Regions from separate parts of the Homo sapiens genome. Here region 1 is linked to region 2. The links come from fine-mapping of genetic effects on gene expression. Tissue or cell type: whole blood. Region 2 holds a variant in brackets; the other region holds the start of a gene. All regions are shown on one strand. Distances are between the middles of the regions.

What was found. PIP is the estimated chance that this variant, and not a neighbour inherited with it, causes the effect.
Region 1: it holds the start of VPS16, and the variant in region 2 is fine-mapped to the expression of VPS16 in whole blood (INTERVAL, PIP above 0.99). The same link has a PIP of 0.9 or more in unexposed skin.

Annotation. Positions count from the first base shown.
Region 1 is chr20:2,839,572-2,842,071 of GRCh38, forward strand. It overlaps VPS16 (VPS16 core subunit of CORVET and HOPS complexes), which reads left to right and starts at 1,174. Exons shown (of 24, transcript NM_022575.4): 1 at 1,174-1,256. The coding sequence starts at 1,204. PCED1A (PC-esterase domain containing 1A) reads right to left here and starts at 1,084. Exons shown (of 8, transcript NM_022760.6): 1 at 640-1,084; 2 at 218-362. The coding sequence starts at 341. RefSeq lists enhancers at 386-917, 1,451-1,982.
Region 2 is chr20:2,997,018-2,999,774 of GRCh38, forward strand. The region is part of intron 9 of PTPRA (protein tyrosine phosphatase receptor type A); the gene reads left to right. Among named protein-coding and RNA genes, the nearest start is that of GNRH2, 45 kb to the right of the region's middle. The variant G/C (reference allele first, on the strand shown) is at 1,478.

The DNA of each region.
Region 1 (2,500 bases), 160 kb before region 2:
CGAGAAATGCTGAGCAAGGATGGGCTAAAAAGTGCACAGGTTATTACACCTGTCAGGACTCCTGTGGAAGATGTGTGGGACATAAAAAGAGAAAACCTACTGGACGGAACAGACCAGAAGACAGACAAGAGATGTGAGATGGAAACAAATGGTCCAGACACACTGAACGGGCTGCAAGGTGTGGGACTGGAAGCGTCACCCTAGAAGAGGCACTCACTGGAGTCCCCCAAGATGACCACGAACTTGTTGTGTAGCAGCTGCTGGACTTCCGAGGCCTGGAAGTGGACCATGTCGCTTCGCAGCGGGCGGCGCGGCTCCTCGCTCGACAGACAGAAGACCATGCCGCCACCAGCAACGACAGGCTGCAGGGAGAGGCCACTAAGCAGCGCGATGGTGGGGACTCTGGGCAGGTCAGCCTCAGGGCTAGCCCCTCCGGGGCTGCTCAATGCTAAAGGGAGGAGGTGACGGCAGCAGAGCCATGGTGGCGCCAGCCTTGGTCACACTTGGTACCAGAGGCAGGGGGTCGTCCAGCCAGCAGGCCTCCAGGGCACTGGGGAGCTTCCCGCGCGGCGCCGCCCTGCGCCTCGCCACGTGCCCGCCGCCGTCCCGCGCATGCGCGCACCCGCTCGCGCCAATTACCAAGTCCCGGGGCTCCGCGGTGTTCACCCGCGACCCGGGTATGCCTGCGCACCGCGCGCCTGGCCCGCAGCGGGCTCCTAGCCAAGCCTCATGTTCCCGCGCCCCAGTCGGCCAGTCGGTTCTGCAAAGCTCCCGCCCCGCAGAGACCGTGGGTCCAGGTTAGCCGTCGGTGCACAGCCCAGCGCCCAGCGCTCTCCATGCGAGCGTCGCTGTGGCCCCGACGGCGCCTCAGGCCTCGGCGCCTCGGGCTGCGACGCTCACAGCTTCCACTTCCGTTCACCCATGTCCCGCCCTGAGCGACCCCCAGTGCCCGAAGGGAAAGCAAGGCGATGGAGGTGGCCGCCACAGGGCGCAGGAGCCAGGGCTGGGCCCACTTGGCGGGCGCGAAGCCCAGGTACGGGCTGGGGTCTCGGGGCGGCAGCCAAGTGAGGCTGCCCACAGTGGTGATGGCCGCGGCGGCGGCCTCGCCACGTGACCCGGACGGGCGGAAGCGGAAGTGCCGGCCTGGAGCCCGCTCTAGGTGGGTGTCCCCTCGGTGCTTCCCAGCTGCCGTCTGCACCAGCCATGGACTGCTACACGGCGAACTGGAACCCACTCGGGGACTCTGCCTTTTACCGGTGAGCTGCCCCGCCCTCCCGCCCACGGCCTGGCTTACCCTGCTCGCCCGCCGGCTGGAGTCTCCCGGCGGCGTTCGCCCCTGTCACTACTGGCGCTGGGGTCCGCCCCGCGCCGGCTCTCCCCGAGCGTCTGCCACTTAGCGCACAGCCGCCTTTGGGCAGGGAGCCGGGCCTTCCCCTGCTCCAGAAAAGGAAACTGAGGCAAGCACAGTGGTCACCCCGAAGCCCAGGTCTGTTAGCCTCCGGAAAGATGCTCAGATCTCGCTGAGGGAGGCAGCTCGCGGGTGACAGCGAGTGCCCAGTCTCCTGCCGGAAAGTGCTGCTGAAGTCAGACCACAGGGGCGCTCCGAGGGGGGCGGGATCGCACGGCGGGCGGGGTAACAGTGCTGACCAAGGCTGGGAAAAGGGGGCGAGTCGTCCGTGAATCCCGGAACAGCGGAAGTGGGAACCCCTGGGTTAGGGCAGCCCGCCCATGGGAGTTGTAGAGTCCTAAACCACGGATTTTTCTAAAGTGTAAACCCGTTACATCGTTACCCAGATTAGGATTTTCCCATAGCTTCCCTAATAGGAAAAACTACGAACTTCTCGTGGAACGTCTATCTGTAAGGCAGCCCGTTTGTCTCTCCAACCTCATCTACCGCTCTCCTACCCAAATCTTGCGTTCCAGCTGCGCAGAATTACAAGGCCCTAACCAGTCTGCAGTTTCTGTGGATACTGCCATTTCTCTCTTTATCTCACTGAAGAATTTTGCGCATCCTTCAGGACTTAGTAGTTCAAGGGTTCTTTCTGGAACTGTGCCTGATTCTCCCCCAATAGAATCCTGTGGGCCTCACTGGGCCCAGTGCTAGGGTCTTTTAGGTATGGTCTATTTGTATATTTAGGCGACATTTGTATAGGTTTCTTCTGCTAAACCAGGCTCCTTCAGGGCTGAAAGCATTTTTTTTTTTTTTGACAGAGTCTTCCTCTGTTGCCCAGGCTGGAGTGCAGGGGCACTCGGCTCACTGCAACCTCCGCCTCCCGGGTTCAAGGGATTCTCCTGCCTCAGCCTCCCGAGTGGCTGAGACTGCAGGCCCCTGTCACCACGCCCGGCTAATTTTTGTATTTTTTGCTAGAGGTGAGGTTTCACCATGGTGGCCAGGCTGGTCTTGAACTTCTGACCTTAAGCAATCTATCCACCTTGGCCTCCCAAAGTACTGGGATTACAGGCGTGAACCACTGAGCCCGGCCAAAAGCATGTTTCTTGC
Region 2 (2,757 bases):
AAATATCTGTCAAATAGAATGGCCAGATGATTTCTTATATCCATTATGATATTCTATACTATCATTAAAATAAATGTGTTCACATAGATCTCTAAGTTATATTGTTATGTGAGAAAACATATGTGGGATAATTTCATTTTTGTTTTCAAAAATATGTATATCTGTGTGTGTTTGGGTATGTTAATGCTTTTTTTTTTAAGTCTGAAAGACTACAAATTGTCAACAGTGGCTGCCTACAAGGGGGCTGGAAGAGAGGAGAGACATAATAGGGAACTTTGTTTTCTACTAAATTATTTGACTTAAAACAAGCATATTCTTTTTATAATATTTTTAAAGCAGATTTTTTTGAATATGGGAAATAAATCTAATGGACTTAGTTTGCTTCGATGGATATATAACATCTAGAATAAAGAAGTTCCTATGCCTAGTTTGAACTGTGTCAGGAGTCTTGTGGTCAGGTCTCTATAAAAAGGGATATCACCAAATGGGATGTTGTTCTGGAGAGAAACTGGACCATGGGGGTGAATAACTAAAGGAACAACACTCATAGGACATGACAGCTGTTTTCAGATATGTGACAGGCTAAAAGGAGACTGTAGCATTTCCGTGAATGCCCACCTGATTAGAAGTTCTAGGCTGTGGCTTTCATCCTAATTACAAGCTGGAGCTTTTTTGTTCACCAGCATTTGTCTTTCTAGGAATCATTGAATTTATTCAAAAGAAATACTTTGAAAAACCACTCAGAAGCCCCCATTTTCAGGGAAAATTGAGGTCTTTAAGGCATTATCAAGGTTTAAAAAGAAACAAAAAGATAAAATTGTGTTAGCTTCTGGCTGGGTGCAGTTGTTCATGCCTGTAATCTAGCACTTTGGGAAGCCAATGCGGGAAGATTGAGGCCAGGAGTTTAAGACCAGCCTAGGCAATGTAGCAAGACCTTATCTCTACAAAACAATTTTTTTTAATTAGCCAGGCGTGATGGCACATGCCTGTAGTTCTAGCTACTCAGGGGGCTGAGGTGGGAGAATCATTTGAGCCCAACACTTGGAGGCTACAGTGTGAGCTATAGTGCTAACTTTATAGAGCTGCAGGAGCTACAGTGAGCTACAGTGATCACCGCACTGCCCTCCAGCCTCCTGGCTACCAGAGTGAGACTCTGTCTCAAAAAAAAAAAAAAAAAAAGGCTTAGCTCCTGAGAGGAATGGGATAGGAGAGAAAGAAAAGAGGGAAAGAGGTGAAGCCAGTGAAATAGTCAGAATCTGTGCGATGTGAGATGTGACCTTCCTCAGGACCTCACATCTCTTAGATTGCCAGGTGAAGAAGGCATGTGTGTGTCACTAGTGATGGGACTGAGTGTGGCATCTGAGTTGAGATGGGTGAAATCGCCTCTACATTGATGAGTTGTCCCAAAATAAGTGAATCAGAGTCACAGTCCTGTGGGAATTAGCAGGAACTGTGACAAGGGCTTTGGAATTCCACT[G/C]TCCAGAGAGTTGGGAGTTTGCGTTTTGCAAGGGGCAGAAAAGATGCCCGCTGACATCTGGGTTTTACATTGCTTAGTACGAGGGAAATGCAAAAGAAATTGTGTGTCTGGGTGTTGGGTCGTTTTAAACAGAACTGTTCCAAGACCTACCTTGGAAGGTAGTAAATTTCCCATCACTCTAGTGTTCAGTCACTGGTGACTATTGGGTGAGAGTATTGAAAGGAGATTCAGACTTAAAAGTGAATGAGATTCAGACCTGTACTGGAGATCTAGGCAAGAAAAGAAAGGTATAAGGATTGCAAAGGAAGGGACAAAATATAAATTTTTCACAGACCAAATACTGTCTTCAGAAAAACCCACAGATTCATCAGACATATTATAGAATTAATATGACATATTATATTATAGAATTAATAAATATGACATATTTATAATTTATTATATATGACATATTTATAATTAATAAATATGACATTATAGAATTAATATGACATATTATAGAATTAATATTCATCAGACATATTATGGAATTAGCAAGGTTGCTAGATACAGAAGCAGCATAAAAATTTAATGCATTTCTATACATAGGCCACAAACAGAAAACCTAATAATACCTTTTAAAAGGTGCCAATTACAATAGCATCCAAATGTAAAGTACCTAGGAATGGATTTAACAATTTAGAGAAAATTATTAAAATGTTTGAAGACATTAAAGGAAAATAGCTTAAATTAGTGAAGAGATAGGATCAATGGATTAGGAGGCTCAATTTTGTAAAGATGTCAATTCTCCCCCAAGATATATAGATTCAATGCAATTCCAATAAAAATCCCAACAGGTTTTTTTGTGGAACTTGACAAGCTGATTCTAAAATTTATATGGAGGAGAAAAGATTCAAGAATAGCCAAGACATTCCTGAAGAAGAAGAACAAGGTGAGGAGACCTGCCTTACCAGATATAAAGAGATTATAAAATTTTAGTAATTAAGACAGTTTTGTATTGGCACTGGGATAGACAGATCGACCAGTGGAATGAAATAAAGAGCCCAGAAGCAGATCCATTTGTAAGTGGAAACCTATTTATGACAGAAATGCTCTTGCAGTTTGGGTGGGGAAAAGATGGTCTTCACAATAAATAGTGCCTGGGACCATTGGTAACCCTGTGGGAATAAATGAAATTGAATGCTTGTCACATATCAAACACAAAAACCAATTCCAGTTGCTGTAAACACTGAAATTTAAAGGACAAAAATGATAAAATGTAGAGATCATAATGTAGTAAA